5 separate regions of the Homo sapiens genome follow, and regions 2, 3, 4 and 5 are each linked to region 1. Evidence: fine-mapped expression QTL. A gene starts in region 1. Each other region holds a variant in brackets. All regions are shown on one strand. Distances are between the middles of the regions. Region 1 holds the start of TJP2 (tight junction protein 2). Region 2 overlaps TJP2 (tight junction protein 2). Region 3 has its middle 65 kb from the start of FXN. Region 4 overlaps TJP2 (tight junction protein 2). Region 5 overlaps TJP2 (tight junction protein 2).

Evidence for each region. PIP is the estimated chance that this variant, and not a neighbour inherited with it, causes the effect. A credible set is the group of variants that fine-mapping cannot tell apart.
Region 2: its variant is the best candidate, but not a certain one, in a credible set for the expression of TJP2 in monocytes (Schmiedel 2018, PIP 0.84).
Region 3: its variant is the best candidate, but not a certain one, in a credible set for the expression of TJP2 in T cells (TOPMed, PIP 0.85).
Region 4: its variant is the best candidate, but not a certain one, in a credible set for the expression of TJP2 in coronary artery (GTEx, PIP 0.64).
Region 5: its variant is the best candidate, but not a certain one, in a credible set for the expression of TJP2 in sigmoid colon (GTEx, PIP 0.81).

What each region holds. Positions count from the first base shown.
Region 1 is chr9:69,171,079-69,177,207 of GRCh38, forward strand. It overlaps TJP2 (tight junction protein 2), which reads left to right and starts at 3,199. Exons shown (of 23, transcript NM_004817.4): 1 at 3,199-3,354. The coding sequence starts at 3,295. LOC124902175 (a long non-coding RNA gene) reads right to left here and starts at 519. Exons shown (of 2, transcript XR_007061566.1): 1 at 1-519. RefSeq lists a silencer at 2,788-3,217 and an enhancer at 4,108-4,297.
Region 2 is chr9:69,212,273-69,218,401 of GRCh38, forward strand. It overlaps TJP2 (tight junction protein 2), which reads left to right. Exons shown (of 23, transcript NM_004817.4): 2 at 276-329; 3 at 4,067-4,191; 4 at 5,985-6,087. Among named protein-coding and RNA genes, the nearest start is that of TJP2, 41 kb to the left of the region's middle. The variant G/GT (reference allele first, on the strand shown) is at 3,118.
Region 3 is chr9:69,097,205-69,103,333 of GRCh38, forward strand. No RefSeq gene overlaps it. Among named protein-coding and RNA genes, the nearest start is that of FXN, 65 kb to the left of the region's middle. The variant C/T (reference allele first, on the strand shown) is at 2,573.
Region 4 is chr9:69,235,044-69,241,172 of GRCh38, forward strand. It overlaps TJP2 (tight junction protein 2), which reads left to right. Exons shown (of 23, transcript NM_004817.4): 13 at 985-1,195; 14 at 1,906-2,093; 15 at 2,835-2,930; 16 at 3,667-3,746; 17 at 4,894-5,104. Among named protein-coding and RNA genes, the nearest start is that of TJP2, 64 kb to the left of the region's middle. The variant G/GGCTTGAGGTAGGAGGATC (reference allele first, on the strand shown) is at 2,553.
Region 5 is chr9:69,242,206-69,248,246 of GRCh38, forward strand. TJP2 (tight junction protein 2) reads left to right here. Exons shown (of 23, transcript NM_004817.4): 18 at 4,485-4,585; 19 at 5,807-6,019. Among named protein-coding and RNA genes, the nearest start is that of BANCR, 62 kb to the right of the region's middle. RefSeq lists enhancers at 1-75, 76-576. The variant G/C (reference allele first, on the strand shown) is at 2,920.

The sequences.
Region 1 (6,129 bases):
CATCATCTTTCTTCAAGCTCCTCCCAAGATCTGCTCCCACTCCTGTGTTCTGTTTTGATAAAAGCCACCGTCATCTCCTTTAAGTAAGCCAGAAACCTGAGAGTCAGCGTAGGCTCACTTCCCGCTCGCGTCTCCCCATATCTAGTCAGGCAGTCATCCAGCCTGCTGATCTACTTCCTTAGTTTCTCTAGAATCTGGCTCCCTTTTGTCTAACACTGCCTAACTTCATAGCCACGTCATCTCTCACCTGCATTCCCACAAAAATGCATTTTTGGCCGGTCTTGTCATTCTTACTAACATTCTCCTCCCCCACCAACCCCTGTCCCCCACCAACTGTCAAATCCATCTTTATACTTGCCTGGGCAACTTCACCTTCTGGCACCTCAAGAGTAAGCCTGCTGTCTCTTCCTTCCTTACTTCTCTCTGTGTTATTTATTCCCCTTACCTGGAAGGCTTTTTTCCTTCTTTGTGTCTTAAAAACTCATTCCGACCTCTCCTTTAGAATGTATAAGCAACCCCATCTCTGGAAAGCCTTCCCTAAGTCTCTCCTGCTAGACCACTCTGAGCCTGCCAGGAATCTCAGTGCTTACACAGTTTATCATTACTTGTTGATTGTCTACTGCAATAGACTGAGTTTCCTAAGGCAGGATCCTGAGTATTTTATCAAGGGGTTGACAGAGGTGTTCAGTAAGTACCTGTTGAGTAGAAGAATTTTTTTTTTTTTTTTTTTTTTTTTGAGACGGAATCTCGCTCTGTCACCAGGCTGGAGTGCAGTGGTGCAATCTCGTCTCACTGTAACCTCCGCCTCTTGGGTTCAAGCGATTCTCCTGCCTCAGCCTCCTGAACAGCTGGGACTACAGGCGTGCGCCACCACGCCCAGCTAATTTTTGTTATTTTTAGTAGAGACGGGGTCTCACCATGTTGGCCAGGATGGTCTTGATTTCTTGACCTCGCGATCTGTCCGCCTCGACCTCCCAAAGTGCTGGGATTACAGGCATGAGCCACCGCGCCCTGCGGAGTAGAAGTTCTTTGGATAAACACATTCTAGGAGTGGGGTCAAAATGTGCAAACCCACACGTGAAGAAGATGACTAATAAATTGTTTCTCCAAAGAGTTGTATTGATTTACACTGCCACCAGCAAAAAAGCTAATATATCAACTGAACCGTGTTTCTAACAACCATTTACTGAATGCTTATCATCTGTCAGGTGTTGTGCCAGAAGAATGGAGTTTGTCTATAAATATTTCATCATTTCGAGTAGTGCAGTCCAACAGAACTTTCTGCATTGATGGAAATATTCTATATTTGCACTGTCCAATAGGGTAGCTATTAGCCACATGTGGCTTCTGAGCCCTTGAAATGAGACAAGTGTGACTGAAGAACTGAATTTGTCATTTCCTCTAATTTTAGTTAATTTACATGTAAATGTAAACACTTACTGGTGGCAAGTGGTCATCTTATTGAACAGTGCCGCTCTAGAGAGAAAAAAGGAAATCAGTCAGTAGATGTAACTGCCACATTCTGGATTATTTTTTAAATGTTAGTGGCTCTAAGCCCACATCATTAAGGTGTGGCCACCTTTCAAGTGCTATCATTTTTATTAGTCAGCACCACCTAATTTGGGAAATATTTTATTTTTTTTTCCTTTTTTTTGATTAAAACAATTTTTAAAAAATAGAGATGGGGTCTCACTATGTTGCCCAGACTGGTCTCAAACTCGTGGGCTCAAGTGATTCTCCTGCCTTGCCTTCCCAAAGTGCTGGGATTACAGGCATGAGCCACCGTGCCTGGCCAGATTTGGGAAACATTTTATAAATAGGTGCTTAGATCAGGAGAGCAATGCCTTACATCAGGAATACAACCAAAATGTCTAAGTCCGGAGACTCGAGGCAAAGTGGGAAACGTTACTCACAGTGCTTTTTATCCAGAGGCGTGGACTTAGTTACTCCAAAGGAGTCCAGAAGCATAACACTTCTGGAGAGGCATCTACTGGACTTGTTTTTCCACGAAACTTCTAGACTTGTTTTGATCAGGCAGGAAGTGAAGCAACTTTTCAGGGAGAGAGCCCAGCATCTGCATCTCCTCTGGGACAGACCACACCTTTTACCTTCTACTTGTGAGCCTAGGACGAGTTTTGCTTTCCAATTAAGGGAAGAGCAGGGCAGGCAAAACTATTCTCTTACAAGATGGTTTTTTAAGATTTCAAACCCAAGGTTATATTTTTAATCGGTACCTGTTTGGATTCTCCAAATTAATTTATATGCTCTTAAAATAAAGACACTTAACGTCACTGCACAATTCTTTGCACATGGAGGACTTCGAAAGGAATAAGCACACTGAATTGCATTAGATGAATCCTGTCAGATAAGCACTTGTGACCTACTGGCAACCTTTTATAAGCTGATGATGGGAGAGGAGTTTCAATCTCTTTATTGGAGTTGTTGGAAATGTGCCAAAGAGATAACCTGGAATATATTGTCCTGAAAAGTCCTGTTTTAATATTTAATACGAACATCTTATAACCCTCGGAATTCGGGTAGGCAGTTGTTGGGCTGAGAAATGTGGGGTACAAGGCCGTGTATGTGTTGGTTAGCCGGGCAGGCCTCTAGACAGGACCTAAAACTTTGAGGTTTTCCCAGTTCGACTCTTCGTAGGAGAACTGAAGCTGCCTGTGTGAGGCCCTGCGAACCTCGCCAAAAAGTCTTCCTACAGGATGCCCCCGCGACCTCACCGGGGAAACACCGCGGACAGTCGGGCCAGCAGCGCCCGGAGCTCACTCCAGGTCTCCAAACTTGCAGCACTTCCCAGAGCGCGCGCGCTCGGAGCGGGACCTGCTTGCTCCAGTGCACGCCGCGGAGCGAACCATCGGGCTGGCGGGGGTGGAGGGGTGCAGGCGTGGGGGCTGCGGGCCGCTCGGGCCTTGGGCTTCTCCTGCCGCCGCCGCCGCCTCCCGCCCCCGGCCAGGAGTCGCGCGTGACGCGGTTCGCCGCAGGAGCCTCGAAGGCGCGGCGCCGGCGAGCCCTTCCCCGGCAGGCGCGTGGGTGGTAGCGGCCAATTTGACAGTTTCCCGGGCCGGGCGGCCAGCGCGGAGGCGCCACGCTCGGGTCGGGGGCGGGCTGACGCCGCCGCCGCCGCGGGAGGAGGGACAAAGGGGTGGGTCCCCGCGGGTCGGCACCCCGGCGGTTGGGCTGCGGGTCAGAGCACTGTCCGGTGGTGCCCAGGAGGAGTAGGAGCAGGAGCAGAAGCAGAAGCGGGGTCCGGAGCTGCGCGCCTACGCGGGACCTGTGTCCGAAATGCCGGTGCGAGGAGACCGCGGGTTTCCACCCCGGCGGGAGCTGTCAGGTTGGCTCCGCGTAAGTGCCTCCTTGTGCCGCGCGGTTGGGAGGAGGGTCGTGAGCGTGAGCGTGGGAGCGCTGGGGGCTCTGCTCGCGTGCTGCTCTGAAGTTGTTCCCCGATGCGCCGTAGGAAGCTGGGATTCTCCCATCCGGACGTGGGACGCAGGGGAGGGGTAGGTTTCACCGTCCGGGCTGATGACTCGTGGCCTCCGGGGCTCCTGGAACCTTTACTCTGAAGTCACTTGGGCTGGAGATTAAGGCGCGAGTAGGGGACACTGTCTTGAACCCGGTGTCCTGGATTTCTGCTGGCTTGGAGGCATCTCGTGTCTGTTGTGTCGCTTGCATGTCTTTGTGTTTTCCTTCTCTATTTCAAACCACACTCGGTATTGATGCAAAGTTACAGGCTTGTGTACGTGAGAGAAACTGAAAACTCATCACAGAGCAGAATCCCTTTTCCCTTTCAATCAGCTGCGTCTGTAATAGAAGTAAAAGTTGTTTTTTTTTTTTTTTTTTTCCAGTAGGGAATGGGGATGGAGGTTTGGAAGGACCCACAAAAGAGGAGTGTGATGAATGCTTTGTATTCTAGTACTAGCCTACCTGTCACCAGTTCTTTTTATGTCTTCATTTGTCAAGTTTCTGCTTTTACACGGTAGTTTAAGTTATAAATAATCAGGGATTTCTACCACAGGGTTTTAACATTCTTGAAATGTGGACAAACTTGGGAGTGAGTGCTCCCGCGCTTAGTAATGGAATACAGCCTCCCACCTCTATTTCAGCTTCAGTTCTTAGGCTAGGCTGCTTTTCTGGCAGCTGTCTGGCCTGAGTAATGATGGTTGTGGTTTCCCTGAAGTTCCCAGCGGAGAGTCATCCCATGATAGAAACTGCCTTGCGCTTCTCACTCACGCTCTCAGCCCGGGGAATCCCAGCGGGGAGGAGGGAGGGAGGTCGTTTTCTTCAGCTCCCCAGGTGGTCTGTGCTGGGTGTGCTGACGGTCCTTTTGGGAAAACAGGTCCACCTTTGCCAGCGTAATTCAGAAAGAGATGTAATTTTCTGAGAGCACACACCTGGGCAGGAGATCGCTTGAAGTGAGAAATTCGTAGTGGTAAATGTATTTGTAGCAAAGTACCACTGCATATCCTGCTTGAGAGGATGAAATTTGATTATTTAGTAAGTTTTCATGAACAACTCCACTTCAGTGTGGGGATTACGCAGATGAGCAAGAGCGTGGCTCTGTCACACAGTCCCGTTGGGAAAGCCTGCAACTCATTAAGAATCCGATGAGTGCCATTTAGAAATGTGGACAGGGTACTGGAGCTTCCTCATTGTGGGGAGATGGCAGAAGCGGAGGTGCTTTACTAAAGCACCGGTGGCTTTTGAGGTGTTTCTTGTGTTTTTTTCAGAACTACTTCTGCAGTGGGGCCACTTTATTTCTTTTCAGAGCTACTTATGCAGATTGATGAAGGGGAACTTTCCCCTCTGAAATGCTGCTGTAACTTTTTCAGTACCATCCAGATATTATAATACTGAATGAGCCCCTACTCCTGCCAGTCACTGTGGGGGATACAAAGATGAACAAGATTCAATTTCTGCATTTAGGGGTCTAGTGGACCTGAAACTGTTAGACTTTACTCTGCAATCTGTGTCGGGATTCCTGAGACTGAGGGAGGGAATGTATGATGCCGATGCACACTCTGCAATACAGAAATTTAGCAAAGAGTGGGATTGGTCCTATATGCATTCCCTTCAGGGGATTCTTGCTGGGAATAAAGGGCATTTGAACAGTTACCTCACCCGAGCAAGCCACTATAGAAAATGGGGCCAGTAATGCGCCCACCTCACCGGGCTGAGTGAGGTCTGAATGAAATGACAGAGAGTACAAGGCATGTGGTGGATGCTACGTAAATGGTGGTAGCTAGTAATAGGAACAAAACGGGTGCTGAAAACTCTTAAGTGTTGGGTCCTGGGTTGATAAGGGAGGTGAGATCTAAAGATACAAGTAGGAGGTGCCAGGTAGGTGTCCAGGAAAAAACTGAAAGAGTTGTTGTTCACACTCTGTTAAAAGGCCTTGAAGGCCATAACGAAGCTTTGGGTGGGGGGAAGTCAGAAATCCCTCATGTATTAAATGACTTGACTTTCCCTACAAAAGAAGCGAACCAGTTTCCCAGTAAACATCCCACCCCATAACTATTTTTGAGGCATTCATAGGCTTAAGACCAATGAATTTTTACATCACCCCCGGGGGAATTGCATTTGCAATGACTTCTGCCTACATTTAACTTTTGATCTAGTTCTTTGTACACTGACAAAAGTTCACAGCCAACCATTTCTCTTCAGGACAAGTGTGAGAACTTTCTGCATACTGCTGAAGGCAAGGGAGATTTTGAGTTTAGCAAGGTTTTCTCTCCTTAAGAAGGTTATCTTTTTACGAGACACAAGTTATTGAAACTAGGCGGGGCCACTTTAGTCCTGTGTACAATAATATGTGTAGTAATATAAATAGTAATTTAAAAAGTCATGCAGACTTGGTTGGGGAGAGGCATGAAGTTTGGGTGTGGTGGGGGCGGGGTGAAGCGGTAGAAGGGTTCGCAATCACTGCTGAAACTTTCAACATATTCTACCAACAATATGAGCCACCAGGGAATTCCTTGCCTCATCTCTAGAACGAATCCCATTAAGCAGTTGTGGCTACAGATGAATTTATCTAGGTTGAGAGCTGATTCCCAATAACATGCCTCATTGATTTGACTCTAAGCAGTAATCAGGGGCCCAACAGTTGTTGGACCAACCAGCCTT
Region 2 (6,129 bases), 41 kb after region 1:
GTGATAATAAAAGGACTCAGCACTTAACATTCCATTCTTTTTAGGGTCTGTCTCTCACTATGTATTTCACTTACCTTTCAAGTATTGTTTCTAGTTTCATTTCATTGAAGGAGAGTGTGTTTGAAAATAGGTAGCATAATGAACAGATATTAACTCTTTTTTGGTATAGAAAGTGTGAGCTGGACTTTATGTCGAGGCATTTTGAATGATAATTTTATTTCTAGCATTGAAAAGGTTGTGGTTTTCATCAGATTGGTTTTGTTCTTTTAAAACAGGCCCCAGGCATGGAAGAGCTGATATGGGAACAGTACACTGTGACCCTACAAAAGGTGAGTTCTGCACATTTCATATATTCTACAGTCATGTTCTTGATTTTACGGATCATGGATCTTATTTATTTTCACCTACACACAGTTTTGGCTTTTTTTTTCCCTTGAGGTACATAATGTATTATAGATACTAACTGGCAATAATTGCTATGTTAACAAAGATTTGCATGCTATTGTATTTTTTGATTAAGGACTGTTTAGTATGGAACATTTTAGAGGTTATTTAGTGTATACTCTTATCTCCAGCTAGAACAGGTTATGAAAGAGAGAAAAGAAAGGGAAGAATGAAAATGACCTGTACTGTTTAAGGATGTGGAGGGAGCTTTTTACAACTTCTGTAATTTTAATTATGACATATTATACATACCTTATAACTCTTAAAAAGTGTAGCATCCAAGAGACTGTAAGTCATTTGTGTGAGGCTGAGCTGGAGAACTGCACTCGTGGTTCTGCATTTTTTTTTTTTTTTTTTTTTTTTTGAGACGGAATTGCACTCTTGTCGCCCAGGCTGGAGTACGGTGGTGCAATTTCGGCTCAGCGCAACCTCCGCCTCCCGGGTTCAAGCAATTTTCCTGCCTCAGCCTCCCAAGTAGCTGGGATTACAGGCGCCTATCACCACGCCCGGCTAATTTTGTATTTTTAATAGAGACGGGGTTTCTCCATGTTGGTCAGGCTGGTCTCGAACTCCTGACCTCAGGTGATCCACCCACCTTGGCCCGCAAAGTGCTGGGTTGCAGGCGTGAGCCACCGTGCCCAGACGGTTCCGCATTTTTATTCCGTCAAGCTGCCTTCCGGTCATCATCACTGTGATTTTCCTGGTTTTTCTGCAGGGTTTCTTCTTCTGGCTCTGAATTCCTCCAAGGTCTGACATCTCCTAGAGGGACCATAAGTTCCTCATAGGAAGAGTTTTCCTTTGACCCTCAGAACTGTGAGCTTCAAGCTTTGTCTTCTATGAAAATTAAAGACATTCCCGAATTTAATGTTTGTTGAATTAATCCAGGTAGAAAAAAATGTCTCTGGGCCAGTGCCCAGGTACCCAGACTTCCAGATCAGTAATCACAATTTCCTCATTTGAGGGGTTTTGTCTGCTTAGGTCTTATTTTTCAACTTTCCTCGTCTTTCTGACTCTCCTCTGCCCTTTCCCTGAGCATTTCATGCATTCCTTGAGTTGTGGACCCAAAATTGGCAGAGGTCAGAGATTTTTTTAGGCTTGGCATAGAGGATGGAGCTGCCTCTGTCTAAAACCAGGTGCCGGCTGGTGGTGCTGCCAAATTCAAAGCCATGTGATTAATAGACAACACCCCCAACCTGTTTTGAGTTTGTAATTGTGTATAATCAGTCAGCATAGTGGGCCTCACGTGGGAAACTTTCCTTGGAAAGGAAGATTTTCTTTTAGTCTCGGAGTAAATTTTTATATAATCGAACCCAGATTTAAGAATATACAGTCAAATATACTCATATTATCTGGATGAAACTGGGCTTAGATACATATATATATTTTTGAAATGGAGTCTCATTCAGTTGCCCAGGCTGGAGTGTAATTGCATGATCTCAGCTCACTGCAACCTTCACCTCCTAGGTTCAAGTGATTTTCCTGCTCCAGCCTCCTAAGTAGCTGGGATTACAGGGGTGTGCCACCACACCTGGCTAATTTTTGTATTTTTAGTAGAGATGGGGTTTTGCCATGTTGGCCAGGCTGATCTCGAACTCCTGGACTCAAGCAATTCACCCGCCTTGGCCTCCCGAAGTGCTGGGATTACAGGTGTGAGCCACCGCACCTGGCCCAGACTTAGCTTTTTAAAACACAAATGAATTAGGATTATGTATTATCTATGCTCACCATTGTGCATTGCTAGACTGATCATGGATGTAATAAATCTTATTTCCGATCTTCCATGCATGAAGAAAAGGGTTTAGTGCTTTGCTTTTCATGAGATCTCAACACATATTTTACGTTCAAATTTTATCTTTAAAATCCAGTTACGGGCCGGGCGCAGTAGCTCACGCCTGTAATCCCCACACTTTGGGAGGCAGAGACAGGTGGATCACAAGGTCAGGAGATCGAGACCATCCTGGCCAACATGGTGAAACCCTCCCTGTCTCTCTACTAAAAATACAAAAATTAGCTGGGTGTGGTGGCACATGCCTGTAGTCCCAGCTACTCAGGAGGCTGAGGCAGGAGAATCACTTGAACCTAGGAGGCAGGGGTTGCAGTGAGCCAGCACCACTGCACTCCAGCCTGGCAACAGAGCAAGACTCCATCTCAAAAAAAAAAAAAACAAACAAATCCATTTACTTCTTTTTCACTGTATGTTGAAATGAAACTACCAACACATCTACTTTGAAGTTAAAGGTATACTTTAAAAATATAATTTTAGGCAGACATAAGAAAGAACGAAATATGTCCTTTGCAGCAACACGAATGTACCTGGAGGCCATTATCCTAAGCAAATTAATGCTGAAACAGAAAACCAAATACTGCATGTTCTCACTTAGAAGTGGGAGCTAAACATTGGGTACACACAGACACAAGGACAGGAACAGTAAACACTGGGAATTCCAAAAGTACGGAGGGAGGGAGAGGAGCAAAGTTTGAAAAACTACTTCTTGGGTACTGTGTTCGGTACTTGAGTGACAGGATCATTAGAAGCCCAAACCTCAGCATCAGACAATACACATATATAACAAACCTGCACATGTACTCCTGAATCTAAAATAAAAATAAAATTAAAAAGGATTGGCTAGCACTGGGAAGAGCAGTCTTTTCCCGCCCAGCTAGAAAGTTGTG[G/GT]TTTTTTTTTTTTGTTTTTTAGAGACTTCTCCATTTGCCCAATTTAAAGTGCAAAAGCTGCCTTGGCTTGTTGAAGCCTTGACCTCACAGGCTCAGGTGATTCTCCCACCTCAGCCTCCCAAGTATCTGGGACTATGGATGTGCACCACCATGACCAGCTATTTTTTTCTATTTCTAGTAAAGACAGGGTTTTGCCATGTTGTCCAGGCTGGTCTTGAGCTGCTGGACTCAAGCAATCTGCCTGCATTGGCCTCCCAAAGTGCTGGGATTATAGACATGAGCCATGAGCCTAGGCAGAAGGTTTTTTTTTTTTTAATATGTCAAAACATCACAATATACAGAAGAATTAAAAATATTTACAGTACAGGCCAGGCACAATGGCTGTCTGTTGTAATCCCAGTGCTTTGGGAGGTTGAGACAGGAGGCTCATTTGAGCCCAGAAATTTGAGGCTGTAGTGAGTAGTGATCACACCGCTGCACTCCAGCCTAGCAACAGATCAAAACTCTGTCTCTTAAAAAACAAATACAATAAGGAAATCTGAAAATTAAAAAATACAGTTTTAGTACAGGTTCAGTTTTTACTGAAGTTGTTCCAGCTCGGGCCAGCATGATGCAAAGAGGTACAACTGGTGCTTCAAACAGTACGTCCCTATTTGGACTGAAGACATTGTTTCCTATCCCGGCCAGCTTCTAGTGATAACTCCAGTCTGCACTATCAATCTTTTCCAGCCTCTACAGGCTGTTTCTTTCAGATAAGGAATTTCCCTTTATAAACCTGTCAGCTGACAATGACTATGCTTTGTTTTGTTTCTCATTTGTTTCTGTAAGCCCATCTGTTCCTGAACAGTCTCTGGTTATTGATTTGACCTTTATTTTATTGAGTGCTTGTAATAAATCCTGAAAGCCACTTATTGAAGGATTTTTAATATTTCTCCTCTCTGATGTACAGGATTCCAAAAGAGGATTTGGAATTGCAGTGTCCGGAGGCAGAGACAACCCCCACTTTGAAAATGGAGAAACGTCAATTGTCATTTCTGATGTGCTCCCGGGTGGGCCTGCTGATGGGCTGCTCCAGTGAGTGTCCTCCCTCGCTCCGCAGCCCCTACCAGCCCTACTGGTTGGCCCTAGACGGGGTATTTTGGTTGGTGTCCACTTTATTTAAAAAAAAGAAAAAAATAACAAACTTTTATATAATATTTGAAAAGTCTTCAAGCTGGAATGGAAGCCATAACACACCATGTTTGAATAATGCCCAAACCTTGGGAACACCCCAGCTTTGGAGCGAGGAGGGCAGTTGTTTCCGTAAGAAGATAGTTCCAAACATCCCTCCTAGGTTTAGGAATCATTTCTGAACATGGAGTTTTAAATTGGCATGCTTCTCAACCCCGATGCTTAACCAACACTGTTTATGTTTGTTTTAATTTATATTCTTTAAGAATTTAATGAGGAGACTTTGGTTTATTGATTATCTTATTTGTAAGAGTGATGTGGAAGTTGGGACAATTTACTATAGGAAAACCACAAGTTTTCCAACTGCCAGCTTTCTGACCTGAAGAAGTAACACCATTTTATTTTAATTTTTAATAAATTTTTTCTTTTCTTTTTTTTTTTTTTTTTCAGACAGAGTCTTGCTCTGTCACCCAGTCTGGATTGCAGTGGTGCGATCTCAGCTCACTGCAACCATCACCTTCCGAGTTCAAGCAATTCTCTTCTGCCTCAGCCACCTGAGTAGCTGGGATTACAGGTGCCTGCCACCACTCCCAGCTAATTTTTGTATTTTTAGTAGAGACGGGTTTTCGCCATGTTGGCTAGGCTGGTGTCAAACTCCTGACCTGAAGTGATCTGCCCACCTCGGCCTCCCAAAGTGCTGGGATTACAGGCATGAGCCACCATACCCAGCTGGTAACACCATTTTACATGATACATGCCTGATTCCCACAGGATAACTTCTCAGGACGAAGTCTAAAGTTAACTGTATGGCTGCATTGGATAAATAGCTCAAAAGTTTAGGTTTTGTTGGTGTTTAAAGCCTCTGTGAACTAAGCACAGTGGCTCACGCCTATAATCCTGCACTTTGGGAGGCTGAGGTGGCAGGAACGCTTGAGGCCAGGTGTTCAAGATCAGCCTGGGCAACCTAGTGAGACCCTGTTGGGATGGCATGTACCTACTCGGGTCCCAGCTACTTGGGAGGCTAAGGTGAGAGAATCCTTTGAGCTCGGGAAGTTGAGGTTGCGGTGAGCTATCATCAGTCACACTACTGCAGTCCTTCCTGGGTGAGAGAGGGAAACCATGCCTCTTAAAAAATAAAATTATAGTTAAGAAAGTCTCTATAGTTTTATCAAAGTTAGTAGTCTTTCATATGGAGAAATGCAAAATTTTAAAGTAATATTTGGGATGAACTGGAACAATAGGATTCTGTGATCTCAAAATTTCTTAAGAATCCAAGGCAAGCCCTTTTCCTGCACAAAAGCACAAATGGATATACACCTACTTGGAAGGAGTGTTTTTAGACTTTTCTGAAGCCCACCGTGCACCTCAGGCAATAGGGGACTGATAGAGAAATTCCTTTTGTGTCCAGACCTCACCGTCATCAAGTACCTCCTGGTGTGATGCTGTGGTTTGGGGAGATCAGGCCTCTCTCTTCCCAGATGATTTCCATTTAGACACTCAGAATTGAGCTGTATGGCCCCCAGTTCCTTTCTTTGGAAGATCTCAGGCCAAGTTGACTGGGCCTTGGGCGCCACTAGACACTGAGCCCTTTAGAAAGCCTTTCAGGTCTATTTGCTGCTTCTATTTGTTCCTAAATAAATAATTTACAATGAATAGATGGGAGTTTTTCATGACCCATTTTTATTTCTTGTTTACAGAGAAAATGACAGAGTGGTCATGGTCAATGGCACCCCCATGGAGGATGTGCTTCATTCGTTTGCAGTTCAGCAGCTCAGAAAAAGTGGGAAGGTCGCTGCTATTGTAAGTACTGGGTTTGCTTTCAGCTTGCCTTAATAGCATTTT
Region 3 (6,129 bases), 74 kb before region 1:
AAGTTTCCTTCTTCCATTAGATATGAATAAGGAGTCATGAGTTTCCTTTGGAATGTCCTTTAGCCTGTTGGTACATGTTTTGCCTGTGACGAATGCAGTTACTCATAAATCATTGAGCACATTGGGTACAGAGGGCAAAAGATAAATTCCTGTATTTCCTCTATTCGGTCAACAGAAATACCTCTAGGCCATAATCCATTCATCCAATCTAATAATTTTGCCATCCATAAAACCTTCAGGTGTTCTGAATTCAACATCTTTTTTTTTTTTTTTTTTTTTTTTTGAGACAGAGTCTTGCTCTGTCACCCAGGCTGGAGTGCAATGGCAGGATCTCGGCTTACTGCAACCTCCGCCTCCCAGATTCAAGCGATTCTCCTGCCTCAGCCTCCCGAGTAGCTGGGATTACAGGTGCCCGCCACCACGCCCAGCTAATTTTTTGTATTTTCAGTAGAGACGGGGTGTCACCATGTTGGCCAGGCTGGTCTCGAACTCTTGACCTCAGGCAATCCACCCGCCTCAGCCTCCCAAAGTGCTGGGATTACAGGCGTGAGCCACCATGCCTGGCTGAATTCGACATCTTGCACCTAATTCCTGTTCAGTTAAAGACCCAAATCATGATCTCTGACTTACCTGGATATTTGAAAGATTAACTTGCTGTGGTGATACCATACTAGAGTCACAAAATCAAGCCCTACCCTGCCACAGCCACCTAAAGGAAATTAGGTGATATACAAAAGAAATTGACCATATTGTTGTCCTTTTAGTGACTCTCCTAATTTTCTTCCCCTGAAAACTTACAGAGAAATTTGAGTATGTTTGCCTTAGGTGGATGCTTGTTTTTTTATTGATATGAAAAGCAGTAAGAGGAAATGGAGTTTTTTGGCCTGTTAAGGAAGGGCAGCCACTGTAAACACAGTTGAGTGCAAATTCACAGTGTTAGAATGTTGAAGTGTATATAATGATTTTGCAAAATTTTCTACAAGGCTGATACAGTATCCAATCAGGACTAGGATTAGATATATTGTCATGTATGTTTGCGCAGGAAATGCAGAGACTCTAAGGTGCTACAACTGCAATTTGACATGTGGGATAGTTCACTGGTAACTGTTGATCTCCCTGAGGTTTAAGTTTACAGTTCCACAGCTCTTTATCTGAAACTCTTGGGCTATGTGTTATGGAATTTAGAATTTTTTCCGAAATACGTTGCATATATTGTATATTATGACATGATACCTCCAAGAAAGACTTGGAGTCACATCCTATAAACAAACACATGAATATATCCCAGTGAAATGTATGACTATTTTTACTAAAACAAATGAGAATCATAAATAGACTTACATTACTTCAGGTCAGATTTTGCTGCCGAATTAGTTTGGGCATCGAACTTTTGGTTTCAGAGACAAAACTGTGAAATTTTAGATTATATTATGGGGTTGTGGACCCATGTAACCCTCCTCTCCGTAATTCCTAAAAGCAAGCAATTGCATCAACCAGTCTCATGAGTAGCTGCGATTCTAGAAATCAAGAATCCGGATCTGAAATTAGCCGGGCATGGTGGCAGGCACTTGTAATCCCAGCTACTGGGGAGGCTGAGGCAGGAGAATCGCTTGAACCCAGGAGGAAACTGCAGTGAGCTGAGATCGTGCTGCTGCACTCCAGCCTGGGCAACAGAGTGAGACTCTGTCTCAAAAAAAAAAAAAAAAAAAAAAAAAGAATCCAGATCTGGGCAGGACCGAATTGCTGACATGCCCCCGGTATAGCAGAGACGTTTTGCCTACATGTTACACACCTGAGTAATAGTTGTCAGCAGCTGATGAAGAAGATGAATGTGCTCTTAATGTCCATCTTTGATTTCCAGTCATTTTGCTTCTGGGTCTTGGCTTCCTGAGGAAAGAAGTCTCCAGTAGGTGAATGCAGTGATATGGAGAATACTTTCTTCTGGCTGCATGCAGTAACTCACACCTGTAATCCCAGCACATTGGGAGGCTGAGGTGGGCAGTGCACTTGAGGTTGGGAGTTCGAGACCAGCCTGGCCAACATGGCAAAACCCCGTCTCTACTGAAAATACAAAAATTAGCTGGGCGTGGTGACAGACACCTGTCATCCCAGCTACTCGGTAGGCTGAGGCATGAGAATCACTTGAACTTGGGAGGTAGAGGTTGCAGTGAGCCGAGATCGTGCCTCTGCACTCCAGCTGGGCAACACAGCGAGACTCTGTCTCAAAAAAAAAAAAGTGTGTGAGAGAGAGTACTTTCTTCCTGTTTCCTCATAGGCCAGTTCTCTCTGGCATGTGAGTTTAACATCAGTCACCTCCTTCACACACAGCGGGTGCATTCGTAATAGGAGGTCCTTAGCTGGGAGTTTTTATGGCACATCAGTGGGGCGTGAAAACACCACATAGGAGCTAATATATCTTTGCTGGCTGCTTTCTCCGGCTCCGCAGCAGACAGAAACCCTATGAATCATATCCAGGGGTCAGGTGCAGGCAACAGACAACTAATATCTCCCAAGTGAGTTGAAAAGGATCTTGTTACCCAGCATCCTAAGGAGGTTGTAGCCTTGGGAACCA[C/T]AGGCAAGAATAATTAACTCAGCTCCTCGGTTAGTGCCTCTTCAGTTCGAGATGGAATTTATTTGCAGGCATGGCTCCTTAATATGCCAAACCCATGCTCAAGACATACTCCTTCTCCTGGAAGGTTAACGTGGCTCCTGTGGCTGTTCCATCCCTGAGGAAAAGTGAGGACCATGCTCTCCAAACAGGCCATGTGCTGGACTACCTCTGTTTCTGTCTCCTGGGATTCCAATCAGCAAGTGAGCAACGAAGCAACCCAGACAGTGTGGTTCATAGGATGGCTGGGTAAGTGGCTGTTTGTTTTTTCCTTACTGTGGATATGTATCAGTGAAGGAATCTGTAGAACATTCTTGATGGGAACATTTAGTCATATCAAGTCAATAAATTAATGTTTAGGCTGGGCGCAGTGGCTCACGCCTGTAATCCCAACACCTTGGGAGGCCAAGGCGGGCAGATCATCTGAGGTCAGGAGTTCAAGACCAGCCTGGCCAACATGGTAAAATCCCGTCTCTACTAAAAATACAAAAATTAGCTGGGTGTGGTGGTGCATACTTGTAGTCCCAGCTACTCTGGAGGCTGAGGCAAGAGAATTGCCTGAACCTGGGAGATGGAGGTTGCAGTGAGCTAAGAGTGCACCATTGCACTCTAGCCTGGGCAACAGAGTGAGACTCTGTCAAAAAAAAATTAAAAAAAAAGAAAAATCATTATTTTATTTTTGACTTATTATTAATATAAATAATTATATCTTGGCCGGGCATAGTGTCTCATGCCTATAATCCCAGCACTTTGGGAGGCCAGGGCAGGCAGATCACTTGAGCCAAGAAGTTTAAGACCAGCCTGGGCAACACGGTGAAACCCTGTCTCTACAAAAAATATAAAAAATTAGCTGGGAGTGGTCAGCTTGCCTGCAGCCCTAGCTACCTGGGAGGCTGAGGTGGGAGGATCACCTCGGCCCAGGAGGTAGAGGCTGCAGTGAGCCATGATTGTACCACTGCACTCCAGCCTGGGTGATAGAGTGATGAGACCCTGTCTCAAAAAAAAAAAAAAAAAAAAAAAGAAAGAAAGAAAGAAAAAAGAAAGGAAAAGAAATCATATATTGGTGAGGAGACAATTCAACACATATTTTTTATTGAACACATACTATGTGTCAGGGTACCAGATATAAGCTCTATCTACAAGGATTTTAGGAGCTGGAGTATGTGTATGGGGGGATGTATGAGTGTGTATAACAAAGACGACTCCTGGGGAAGAAGAGGAAGACAAGCCCCAGAGGTATACTGCATAGGCATAATACACAACAGGCTAGCAAAGAAGCAAACCATGGGTATGGTAGAGAGAATCAGAGGATACATTGGGGACCATGTCTAGTGAGTGAGGTCAGGAGAGACTTCAATAATCTGAGTGAATTTAGACATGGGCCTTGAAAAGTGGACAAGGTTTGTTGTTGTTGTTGTTGTTGTTGTTGTTGTTGTTGTTGTTGTTGTTTTTGAGATGGAGTCTCATTCTGTCGCCCAGGCTGGAGTGCAGTGGTGCGATCTCGGCTCACTGCAAGCTCCGCCTCCCAGGTTCATAACATTCTCCTGCCTCAGCTTCCCGAGTAGCTGGGACTACAGGCGCCCGCCACCACGCCCAGCTACTTTTTTATATTTTTAGTAGAGACGGGGTTTCACCGTGTTAGTCTGGATGGTCTCGATCTCCTGACCTTGTGATCCACCCACCTTGGCCTCCCAAAGTGCTGGGATTACAGGCGTGAACCACTGCGGCCGGCCTAAATTTGTTTTAAAAGTACGCATAGGAAGGCTGGGGGCTGTGGCTTATGCCTGTAATCACAGCACTTTGGGAGGCCAAGACAGGCAGATCACGAGGTCAGGAGATCGAGACCATCCTGGCTAACACAGTGAAACCCCGTCTCTCCAAAAAAACAAAAAATTATCCAGGCCTAGTGGCACACGCCTGTAGTCCCAGCTACTTGGGAGGCTGAGGCAGGAGAATCGCTTGAATCTGGGAGGTGGAGGGTGCAGTGAGCCACTGCACTCCAGCCTGGGTGACAGAGCAAACTAGGTCTCAAAAAAAAAAAAAAAAAAAAGTACATGTGGGGGACAGGTGCAGTGTCTCAGCCTGTAATCAATCCCAGCACTTTGGGAGGCTGAGGTGGGTGGATCACTTGAGGTCAGGAGTTCAAGACCAGCCTGGCCAACATGGAGAAACCCCATCTCTACTAAAAATACAAAAATTCGCTGGGCGTGGTGGCGCACGTCTGTAGTCCCAGCTACTGGGAAGACTAAAGTGAGAGAACTGCTTGAGCCCAGAGGTCGAGGCTGTGGTGAGCGGTGATTTCACCACTTCAGTCTAGCCTGGGTGACAGAGAGAGACCCTGTCTCATATAAACAAATAAATAAAAGTTTATTTATTTATTACACATATTTATTACACATTATTACAAGACCTTGAACTAACAACATTAACATGCATTTGTTAAAGGAAAATAAATTAGCTCAGATGCTACTACTTTTCATAATACTTGCACGATTGATTTCAATCCCTGTTCATCTGAATGGAGAGTTGCAGGTATACTATGCAGCTATTCTACTTATATTCTGTTTTTTAATGTAACAGTATTATTTCTTGATGTCTCTACACATTTTATATCACTTTAATATTTAATAAAAACATCTACCATAAGTTCTAAAATGGTAAAAGGAAGAATAGTCATTAGTACTGTCACTACCCTGAATGAATACAAATACAGTTTGCACTAGGGCTTATTTTGCTCCTGTCCTTTGCCTGTGCATTTCATTTTTGCATCGTGGTAATCATACTGGGTGAATTTTGTATTCTGTAATTTCAACTGAATATTATATCATAAGTGTTATCTACAAGTTCCATGAGGACCAAATCTTCTCCACCTTTTTCACCATTTTACTTAGCATGGTATAGTAAAGCTGGCTCAATAAATATTTGCTGATTGAATAAATGTTGTTACATGCTCTTCCTGATTAACATATATATACGCATATACAATTTTTTAGTGACTGCATTAATTTACTTCATTTTTTCCTAATTGTTGGATATTTCAGTTGCCATTTTTTTGCTTTTATGAATAATGTGTTGATGAAAAGATTTGTGCATATAGTTTTCTCTGCATTTGGACTATTGTCTTTTTTTTTTTTTTTAAAGATAGAGTCTTGTGCTGTCACTCAGGCTGCAATGCAGTGGCGCAATCTCGGCTCACTGCAACCTCCACCTCCCGGGTTCAAGCTATTCTCCTGCCTCAGCCTCCTGAGTAGCTAGAATTACAGGTGCCCACGACCATGCCCAGCTATTTTTGTATTTTTAGTAGAGAAGGGGTTTCACCATGTTGGCCAGGCTGGTCTCGAACTCCTGACCTCAGGTGGTCCTCCTGCCTCGGCCTCCCAAAGTGCTAGAATTACAGGCATGAGCCACCAACGCCCAGCCTTGACTATTGTCTTAAGATAGGGTGAAATTACAGGATCAAATGATTTGGACAGTTTTGCAAGTCTTAATGCATTTTAAATTAAAATGCTTTTTAAAAAAGC
Region 4 (6,129 bases), 64 kb after region 1:
AATCAATAGGAAAGAAAGAGATTTATTATAAAGAATTGGCTCACATAATTATGGAGACTGGCAAGTGCCAAGATCTGCAGTGAAAATGGGCAAGATAGAGACTCAGGAGAGCCAGTGATTTAGTTCTAGTCTCAGTCTGAAGGCCTGAGAACCAGGAGAGCCAATGGTGTAGTTCCAGTACCAAGTCAGGGAAAAGAGCTGATGTCGCCTTTTGAAGGCCATCAGGCAGGAAGAGTAGTTTCCTCCTAATTTTTTATTTATTTATTTATTTATTTATTTATTTATTATTATTTTTTTGAGACGGAGTCTGGCTTTGTCGCTGAGGCTGGAGTGCAGTGGAGCAATCTTGGCTCACTGCAAGCTCTGCCTCCCAGGTTCACCCCATTCTCCTGCCTCAGCCTCCCGAGTAGCTGGGACTACAGGCGCCCACCACCACGCCCGGCTAATTTTTTGTATTTTTAGTAGAGACGGGGTTTCACTGTGTTAGCCAGGATGGTCTCGATCTCCTGACCTTGTGATCCACCCACCTTGGCCTCCCAAAGTGCTGGGATTATAGGCATGAGCCACCACGCCCAGCCTAGTTTCCTCTTAATTGAGAAGGGGTCTGATTGTCATTCTCTTCAGGCCCTCAACTGATTGGATGAGGCCCACTCGCATTGGGGAGGGCGATCTTCTTTGCTCAGTCTACCCATTTATACGTGACTGTCATTCAAAAACACCCTCAGAGAAAGGCATAGAATAAAGTCTGACCAAATACCTGGTTATTTCATGGCCCAGTCAAGTTGAAATAAAATTAACCATTGCAGCAAGCCGTGAAGCTGGTTATTTGTCCTTGTTCCTGTTGGAGCTGTGACTCCCATAGGACTTGTGCACTGAATGGAAGGAAGGTAAAGGGGAGATCAGAGATAGGAGAAGCTGTGTTGAGTGTCTAGTACTGTAACTTGTACTAAGCTGAATGCAACAAACGATGCTTTTGTCTTTCAGTGTATAGAGACATCCTGGCTTGTGGCAGAGGGGATTCGTTTTTTATAAGAAGCCACTTTGAATGTGAGAAGGAAACTCCACAGAGCCTGGCCTTCACCAGAGGGGAGGTCTTCCGAGTGGTAGACACACTGTATGACGGCAAGCTGGGCAACTGGCTGGCTGTGAGGATTGGGAACGAGTTGGAGAAAGGCTTAATCCCCAACAAGAGCAGGTAACAGAGATCGCATTCTCACATACCCCTTTTAATCCTTCCCCCTGCAGAAAACTAGAGACCGCCCCCCTTCCCCCGTAAAAGGAAACCCCACATGATGAGTTCATTACTTGTCACCATCTATTTCTTGTTTATGGAGAGTGGCCTGAACTGTAAATAGCCACCAGCCAGTTTATTGTGAGTAAATTTAGCATCATGTGGTTGGTTGCTGAATGTGGCTGTTTGAACAACTTCCTAAGGAGCATCCACTGCCTTGTACCGTATACAAGAGATATACTGAATGGCCGTAGCACACCAGCACACCTCTTAGAGACAAGGTACCCTTGTCCGGTGCCCAGTCTCCATCCTTGGAGAGGTTTATGCACCCCAGTGAACACTTGGTGTTTGGCTGACAGTGCAGGAACCTAGAAAAGAGGCCTGTATTTGAGCAGGAGTTCCAGGTGTGTGTACTGTGTACCTGCATATCAGAATGGGCCAAATTTCACATGTTTATTGCTGAGCCACTTCTGGGAGATTTCACAGAGACCCAGCCTTTTTCTGCTCCCATTTGGAAGTGAAGGTCCCCACATTTCCCACCCTCTGAAACTTCTTCATTGTCAAGCGGAATCTTCTCTGAGCTCAGAAGTAAAATTGACTGGATTTGATTAATGAAATGCATGTTAGCTGCGTTTTCTGGCTTTAGAGATTTACTTCCCGTGGTTTCTTCTCAGAGCTGAACAAATGGCCAGTGTTCAAAATGCCCAGAGAGACAACGCTGGGGACCGGGCAGATTTCTGGAGAATGCGTGGCCAGAGGTCTGGGGTGAAGAAGAACCTGAGGAAAAGTCGGGAAGACCTCACAGCTGTTGTGTCTGTCAGCACCAAGTTCCCAGCTTATGAGAGGGTTTTGCTGCGAGAAGGTGAGGAAGTCACATGGGGCCTGGAAATGAACTGACTGGGCTCTGAGCCTGTTCACCTTTATTTTCAGACTGTATGGTCAAGTTCTAACTTATGTATGTCAGTTATGCCAAAGGCAGTTTATAGAGTTGAAATCAAATTCTAACAAGGAGCATGATTTATAAAAAGCTGTTTCAGTTCCTAAATTGAGGCTTATTTCTGCAACTTAAAAAATGTTTTAATACCACTGTTCAAGAGTTTCGGTATATTGGCTGGGCACTGTACCTTATGCCTATAATCGTAGCACTTTGGGAGGCCAAGGTGGGAGGATCACTTGAGCTCAGAAGTTCAAGACTAGCCTGGGCAATATAGTAAGACCTCATCTCTGCAAAAAATAAAAAAAGTTTCCATATATTATCAATGGGAAAGTTTGTGTTTAAAAATGGTGAGGAGCTAGGCAGTGTAGTCCCAGCTACTCAGGA[G/GGCTTGAGGTAGGAGGATC]GCTTGAGCCTAGGAGTTTGAGTTTAGTCTGGGCAACATAGTGAGATCTTGTCTCTTAAAAAAAAATCTAGGTTAGCATGTGGTTGAATGAAAAGAAAAAAATTGTTTTAAATGGTGAGGATAGTGAAGGCATATTCTTCAGAACAGAGCCAAGCTGAATTGGGGAGAAACCACAGTTTCTTTCGTTTAGTTATGTTATCAAAAGCCCATACAATACTTTTACTGCTTATCATAACAGCTAGGCAAGTGTGTATGCTTTAATGGCCTTTCTTGTCATTTCAGCTGGTTTCAAGAGACCTGTGGTCTTATTCGGCCCCATAGCTGATATAGCAATGGAAAAATTGGCTAATGAGTTACCTGACTGGTTTCAAACTGCTAGTAAGTCTGTCAGTGTTTTTTTTTCCCCCAAATTTTTATTTTGAAAAATTTCTAACAGAGGAGTTGGAAGAATCATGAACACCCACGTACCCTTCACCTGGAATCACCAGTTGCTGACATTTTGTCACGCATTTTCTCTCACCCACTGCCTGCACCATAGACACACATACACACACACATACACATACTCTTTGAAAAATTTCTGCAGAATCATTTATAACACTTTATCCCTGAATACTTGTGTGAATCTCCTAAGAACAAGGACTTTCTCCCACATAACTGCAATACCATTATCACAGCCAAGAAAGGTAACATTGATGTGGTGTGATTTTGTATATAGTCCATTTTCCACGTTTTCTTAATTGTCCTAGTTATGTGCTTCATAGCTTTTTTTTAAATTCAGAATACAACCAAGGACCATTCATGACATTTGATTTTTATGTCTTTTTGTGATTTTTATGTCTTTCCAGTCCCCTCTTTTTTCTAAATAACTTTGTTACACTGATATTTTGAAGAATCCAAGCTAGTTGTCTCCTAGAATGCTTCCTGTTGGACTGGCCTAACCGTTTCTTCATGATTAGATTTCCACTAAGCAGGTTATGTGGGTCCTTCCCACTGAATCTTGTTAGGAGACACTTAATGTCAGGTGTGCCATCATTGCTTGATGCTAGGTGGGAGTATTTGGTTGTCACTGTTTTCTAAACAATTATTTAGCTTCCTGTTTTTGCTTTTGCAGAAACGGAACCAAAAGATGCAGGATCTGAGAAATCCACTGGAGTGGTCCGGTTAAATACCGTGAGGCAAATTATTGAACAGGTGAGAAAATTCATCCACAGACCGTGTTTTCAGAAAGAATTAGATTATGGTTTGCTGCAGTCACTTTTAGGATAGTATCTGTACTTTTAATCATTAAATGTTAATAATAAAAAATTGGCCGGGCACAGTGGCTTACACCTGTAATCCCAACACTTTGAGAGGCTGAGGCGGGTGGATCACCTGAGGTCAGGAGTTCGAGACCAGCCTGGCCAACATGGTGAAACCCTGTCTCTACTAAAAATATAAAAAATTAGCCGGGCACAGTGGCAGGTACCTGTAGTCCCAGCCACTCAGGAGGCTGAGGCAGGAGAATCGCTTGAACTCAGGAGGCGGAGTTTGCAGTGAGCGGAGATTGCACCATTGCACTCCAGCCTGGGCGACGAGTGAAACTCCATCTCAAAAAAATATATATATAATGTAAATGCAAACCGTTTCACTGTGTGGAAACCAGTCACTGTTGGCAGTGAGCGGAGATTGCACCATTGCACTCCAGCCTGGGCGACAAGAGTGAAACTCCATCTCAAAAAAATATATATATAATGTAAATGCAAACCATTTCACTGTGTGGAAACCAGTCACTGTTACTGTTCTCTGGCAGTAACATACTGTTTTTTTTTCCAGAGTTCCCAGCATTATACCAAATAATGTGTTAATTCATTTTATCAGAAGTTCTAACACATTGGTAATATTGAAGTGGGCATTAGGTAGAAGGAAATGTGTTCTGCTTCTTGATTTAAATTTACAAGATAGGTGGCTCATGCCTGTAATCCCAGCACTTTGGGAGGCAGAGGCGGGCGGATCACCTGAAGTCAGGAGTTTGGGACCAGCCTGGCCAACATGGTGAAACCCTGTCTCTACTAAAAATACAAAAATTAGCTGGCCATGGTGGTGGCGGGCACCTGTAATCCCAGCTACTCAGGAGGCTGAGACAGGATAATTGCTTGAACCCGGGAGGCGGAGGTCGCAGTGAGCCAAGTTTGTGCCACTGCACTCCAGCCTGGGCAACAGAGCAAGAATCTATCCCAAATAAGTAAACAAACAAACAAACAAGATATATCTCATACAGCCTTTACTTATTAAAACAAAGTATTTGATGCTATATTACTTTATATATCCATTTCTCTAACTTTTCCCCTTTTGTAAACAGGATAAGCATGCACTACTGGATGTGACTCCGAAAGCTGTGGACCTGTTGAATTACACCCAGTGGTTCCCAATTGTGATTTTTTTCAACCCAGACTCCAGACAAGGTGTCAAAACCATGAGACAAAGGTTAAATCCAACGTCCAACAAAAGTTCTCGAAAGTTATTTGATCAAGCCAACAAGCTTAAAAAAACGTGTGCACACCTTTTTACAGGTAAGTGAAATGTAAATGTAGTCCCTTTGCTAAAAAATGAGAAATAAAGAATTGAAGAGTAGAAGAAATAATTAATTAATCTGAATGGAGAATTTGAAATTGTGTTCATGACTCCTTGAAAAATAGTTAATCCTATAAAATGGGATATTAGGCCAATGGCATTTATATATTGAACTTTGTAATTTTGTCTATTTGAAAATGACCATAAAGATCCATGATGTGGTAATAATTAGCTATTTTGATGAAGTTCATATTTTCCTGTGAGACTATAAGGCTAGTGATTGAGCCAGGCCAAACACCTATGTCTCTCTAGAGATTGTGTCATTGTTCTCTACTCACCATCAATACATGCATTAACTTACAAAGCGAAAGGAACTTGGTTTCATTATTTAAAAATATTCCTGTCCAGCATGGTGGATAACACTTGTAATCCTCCCACTTTGGGAGGCCAAGGCAGGAGGATCACTTGAGCCCAGGGGTTGGAGACCAGCCTGAGCAACATGGTGAGATCCTGTCTCTACTAAAAGGCCTAGCATGGTGGTGCATGCCTATGGCTGAGGTTGGAGGATCGCTTGAGCCAGGAATTCAAAGCTGCAGTGAGCTGTGATGGCACTGCTGCACTCCTGCCTGGTGACTGAGTGAGACCCTGTCTCTTCAAAGAAAAAAAAAAAAATCTAGAAACTTGGACACTCTGAATATTGGATGATTTAAAGATTTATTATTTCTCTTTGTTAGGTGTGATAATAATATTGTGATTTTTTTAAAAACAAAGTTCTTTGAGGAATGCATACTAAATAAAATATTTATGGTTGACCTAATATAATGTTGAGAATTTGCCTAAATAGTCTGCAGTGAGGGGAGTAGATGGGATTATAGACAGGACAAGACTGGCCAAGACTTGGTAGTTGTTAGTTGTTGAACTGGTTGATATGTACATCGGAGTTCATTAAACTGCTATCTGTACTTTTGTACATATTTAAAGATTTACCTAATAGAATATATTTTTAAGTCCATGAAATGAAGAG
Region 5 (6,041 bases), 71 kb after region 1:
AGCACAGGCCACGGTAGCTGGCTGAGTGTGAGTAAGAATCTAGAGGGGTCCATGTGTGTAGAAGGGGTTAGCAACACCTCTGTTAGCTCCATAGATGGATTTCAAGATCCTTGAAGGCAGAGCCTGAACATTTCCCAGCGTTGTGTGCCTGAGGCCAGCATCAGGACTAGCACATGGGCAAGGCATAAATGTTTGTAACTTACATTAGAACTGCCCCTGGCACACCAAGCCATTTCTTGCCTAAACTCATCAGGAAGTTGAAAGTTTTAGAATAACTCAAGTCAGAGATTGGAATGGAAGCACACACTGTAAGCATTGAGTTTCATCTAAAACATTGAAGTGATCTTATCTCACCAGAAATTGCCAATCTCTTATGTAGAATTGTACAGTCTTCAGGATAGATGGTGCAGGGTGTGCAGCAACTTTGACCAGCAAGCTCCAATTTTCTAGCAAGTGGTCTTTTACAGTACTCTTCCAGACTTCAAAGTTTGACTCCCTACAGCTGTGTGGATGACTGCACTAATAATTGCTTTTATTCCCCATCTCACCCTCGTCCCTCTTAGCTTGACCAGGTTTTGACTTGAGGCTGTGTGCCATGTCCAGAAACACTAGTCTTTACATTTGAGCAGTAGAATCTTCAGGCAGAATTAGTATTTTATAGTTTTTGTTTGTTTTTGAGACATAGTCTCCCTCTGTCGCCCAAGCTAGAGTGCAGTGGCACGATCTCGGTTCACTGCAACCTCTGCTTCCTGGGCTCAAGGCACCTTCCCTCCTCAGCCTCCCCAGTAGCTGGGACTACAGGCACACACCACCATGCCTGGGTAATTTTTGTATTTTTTCTGGCAACAGGGTTTACCCATGTTGCCCAAGCTGGTCTCAAACCCCTGGGCTCAAGCAATCTGCCCGTGTTGGCCTCCTAAAATGCTGGGATTACAGGCATGAGCCACCGTGCCTGGCCTATTTTGTAGGCTTTTAAAATGATTTTAAGTGTATGGCATTTTTGTGAGTTAGTAGTTGAGAATAATAGAGTGCTTTGATGAACACAGTAATTTGAAGTCAAGCTTTATGTTGCATTAGTCTCTTTAGGCTCAATATCCTTTTGTTTTCCTTTTTGCAAAGTAATAAGAAAGCTCCTCTTCCTCACGAGTATTTAATTATGACAATATGAAAATAGTTCTCCTTACAAGTCTTACAGTACTTCTCAGTTAAACAAGAGAAGCTTTATTCTGAGATTTGCCCAAAGGCAAGTTGACTTGTCATAATAAGTTTAAGTGTTAGGTTTGCCTCCCCTACTACCAATTTTTAAAAATTTTCTATAAAATACATTTGCATATCACAAATTTTTATTTTTAAAAAACAAACTTTGAATTACATGTTTTCTTGGAATCTTCAAAGTACTCAGTGCATGGTTCGAAGATCATTTAAGTTGACTTATGGATTTAGAGACCCAAGTGGGGCTACCCTTTTATGCTAATTATAGAATTTTAATTCCTGATTTCTCAAAGGATTATATAGACTAGCTAGTTGACCACAGAAAAGAGAAGGAAGATGCTGGGCCCCCTAGCTGGATACCTTTGCTGTTGCATGCCCATTTAGAGGGGGTCTAGCGTGCCACTGTTAACCGAGCCACGTGAAAAGCTTTATTGAGTTTTGACTTAGATACCATATAATCCACCCATTGAAAGTATATAGTTCAGCTGGGCATGGTGGCTCACGCCTGTAAATCCCAGCACATTGGGAGGCCAAGGTGGGCAGGTCACTTGAGCTCAGGAGTTTGAGACCAGCCTGGGCAACATGATGAAACCCTGTCTCTATTAAAAATAAAAAAATTAGCTGGGTGTGGTGGTGGGTGCCGGTAGTCCCAGCTACTTGGGAGGCTGAGGTGGGAGGATCACTTAAGCCCGGGAGCTGGAGGTTGCAGTGAGCCGAGATTGCACTACAGCACTCCAGCCTGGGCGACAATGAGACCCTGTCTCAGGAAAAAAAAAAAAAAAAAAAAAAAGTATGCAATTCAGTGGGCTTTAGTATATTCAGAGTTGTACAGCTGTCATCACAACCAATCAATCTTAGAACATTTTTATCATCCCCAAAAGATACCCCATACCCATTAGCAGTCATTCCCCATTTCTCCCTTTCCCTAAACCCTCTAGTCTTAGATGTTACCTTTTGCTGTCGCTCTTGGTGCTTCCAAACCTCCTTGGCTGGGGAGGGGGAGGTAGCACTGACCATACATGTCAGGGCTGGGCACACGTGCCCTCAGAACCTCAGTATTCCCAACTAAGGCAGTGGCTGAGTCAGCATCCTTTCAGTATTTCACTTTCTTGAGCTCAAAAGATAGAGTAAGTCTATCCAAGGGGATATAGGCATAACCCAGAGGTTAGGAGCAACAGATAATTAACTACTATTGCTCTAAGGCAAAGAATCTGAGAAGCGGAATGAGAGAATCCAATAATAAGCTAAAGGTACTTAATTCAGCAGAGTCAAGGGAAGGCAGCTTCATGTCTGTGCACCTGCCTGTTAAAAAGAGGTCAAGTGCATGAGTTGGATGTTACTTTTATATGCAGCTTAGGAAGTTAGCTACTGTGAAGCTCTCAATTTTTATTCATAAACTTGACTGTTAATGTGAATTCAGTAAGAGCTTTTGTGATTTTCTTTATTTTATCAAGGGGCAAGAACATATTTCCTGCATCTCACAAAATGCCGTTTTAACTTTAGGTTTTCTTTATGATGAATGCAGACCATACTTATCTCAGACAGCTGCAACATAAAGCTTTAAAAGACTGCTTAACATTTTGTATATATTTAGTGTAAATCACTCATTTTGTCTCTGGGGTACAAAATCTCACTTCTATTTTTAAGTATCATATTTTAGCTATGAGATGAGCACAGTAATCTTTGCAGAGTACCATAATAGGAATA[G/C]AGAAGTCCGTGGAATCAAAGTTAATTTTCTTCGGGTTGTCTAATGGATCAGTTTATTTCAGTGCTGTAAATAATTAATAACCAAGGAAATTGTAAGCTCATTCAGGATTTTCTAAGGTCACTGTTAGAACTTCTTAAACAGAAGAAAGCTATGTTACTTGGAGGAAAACCTGAAGCATCATTGCTTACAAAATTTGCTTAATGGTTCTTTTTGGCTTTAGAAGTGATAGTACAATAAGAGGCCATGGCAATGTAGTTTAAAAGAAATCCTAATTTACCTGCAGTCTGATAATTTTAGGGGTACAATTTGTTATTTTGGACTAACTTGCTTGTCTAATTTATCTCCATTAGGTCCATAATACATATTGCTGAAGAAATGACATATGTTGTACTTTGTTGGTATTTTATATCTGTGCTCTAAATTTCTGTTTTTAGATGGGCCATGTAGTGTGGTGGCTGAGACCATAGGCTCTGAAAGCAGTTTTCTGAGCTTGCATCCAAGCTTCACACTTGCTTGGTGTGTGGCCTTGGGCTAGTTAATTTCACTACTTTACCTTGGTTTCTCATCTATAAGATGGGCATCATAGCAACACCTACCTTGCAAAGTTTGTGTAGTCGTGAAATGAGCTAATCCAGGTAAGGTACTTGGAAAGTAACTGGTTGATGCATAGTAAGTGCTATTATGTAAGATATACTTTGTTCTGAGTAGAAAATGTATATTCTTTGAATACACACTGGTTGGGTTTGTTTAATCTATATGTATATTCTAAAATGTGTAAGTCTATCAAAGTGATATACAGTCAGCTCTCCATGTCTGTGGTTTCCACATTCATGAATTCAACTAGCCGTGTATAGGAAATATTTGAGGGGTAAAATGGATGGTTACATCTAAACGTGCAGGGTTTTTTTCTTGTCATTATTCCCTAAACAATATAGTATAACAACGATTTGCGTAGCATTTACATTGTATTAGGAATTATAAGTAATCCAGAGATGATTTAAAGTATATAAGAGGATGTACATAAGTCATATGCAAATACTGTGTCATTTTGTATCAGATACTCGGCATCTGTGGATTTTGGTATCCAAGTGGGGGGTGTCCCGGAACCAATCCTCTACAGATACCAAGGGACAACTTTATGTTTAAGTGTTACTTTTAGTATTTTATTGGAGGTAGCCAATACAGTATATTAGTGTATACTAATTAGTGTATACACCTCAGCCTCCCAGAGTGCTGAGATTACAGGCATGAGCCACCACACCTGGCCGAAAACACATGTTCTTAAAAACATTTTTAAAAGTTAGCCTTTCTGAAAATAAACATTCTAAAAATCTATTTTTAGCTTTATCACATCCACCTATAATGTGAACTCAAACAGCTACATGATTAGTAGTTTTAATTGCATTCATTAAAAGGGTTTTAATATTCAAAGATGTGCAAACATCTTCTTGCGTCTGCCATAGTCTTAAATATCACAGAAATGAGTGTAAATTATGTCAAATAGCATCCTTAATAAACATGCCTCTGGAAATTAATGCAGACCTTTTTGTTTATATTTCTATAGCTACAATCAACCTAAATTCAGCCAATGATAGCTGGTTTGGCAGCTTAAAGGACACTATTCAGCATCAGCAAGGAGAAGCGGTTTGGGTCTCTGAAGGAAAGGTATGTGGCATAGATATGCTGCTATGAGGTGAGAGTCCCTGTTCTGAAACTTTTCTCAAGAGGGCAGTGAATGTAGTCAAGCCATGCCCATTTGAAGTGATGCTCACATGTGTGCTAATCAAGTTTGAAATTTCGTAAATTCTCTGACCAAGTAATAAAAATGAAGGGACTTTTAAAAGAAGAGCAGAATGTGACATGTGCAGCCCTACATTCACTTCCCTTTCACTTTTAATGTAGTAACTAGTGTTATATTCCAAGTACACTAATCAGAGCTTACAAGATCTCATGCTGAGCTCCACAGCTTACTAAGGACGTGGGAAACTTAGAGTGCAGATGAGAGGTGAGGTTGAGCAACTTGGAGAATACGGCTAAACATTAATAAAAAGAAAAGCTAATGGAGTTAGAATTACTTAGAAAATAAGGTTGGTTGAGAATGTGCCATCGTTCTGGGAGTTTGAATGGGTGATATGAGAACGTTAGGGAATTTGTCTAGGCCTCTAGAATTGGATCGCTTCTCCCTCGGGGAGATAGCTCACACACAGCTGTGCTGCAGGGAGGAGAGAGGGAGATTCTATTACCTGTGGCCGCTTTTATTTTAGAAGCTTTTGGTGTTAGTATCCTGTTCACCAGCTGAACTGAGGTAGTTTTGTGAGACTTGACAGTGACTATTTTGTTGCAGAATTGACTAAGTTTTGCTCTTTGAGAACTAGATGTGTAGTCAAAGTATCTGGCATCTATGGAGTGCTTCCAGTTTGGAAGGGGGATGCAAGCTTCCCTGGGGAGGACAGGTTGAACAGGACATAGCTTCTGCCTTTGAGGGTCTGAGAATCTTGTAGAGGCATGGATGTGAGTGTAGCACAAGGCAGCGTGCAATGTGTTGATATTACTAGGAGAGTGGTACCAGGAGAACAGGCTGCAGAGGAGCTGGATTCAGAAGAAAAGCAAGACAGACTGAGAAAGTGTGGCTTAGCCGCGGTATGGAGGATGGATGGTAGCACAGATAGGCTGCAGGGCCCCTAATTTGAGTTCCTGCACAAAAACGACCATAATATCAACATTGTACCAAAGCCAAGTGATCTCAGGGAGAAAAATAAAAGATGCCTTCCCTGGCGAGCACATCAAGGTTTCAGTCGCTTGGCTGTGTCCTTGGGAATTTTCTTGAGTCCCCACTCCCAGGAGCCACATCAGACCCCACTGACCGTCCAACACAAATTCCTCTAGATGGAAGGGATGGATGATGACCCCGAAGACCGCATGTCCTACTTAACCGCCATGGGCGCGGACTATCTGAGTTGCGACAGCCGCCTCATCAGTGACTTTGAAGACACGGACGGTGAAGGAGGCGCCTACACTGACAATGAGCTGGATGAGCCAGCCGAGGAGCCGCTGGTGTCGTCCATCACCCGCTCCTCGGAGCCGGTGCAGCACGAGGAGGTGAGGCGAGGCAGGCCACGGG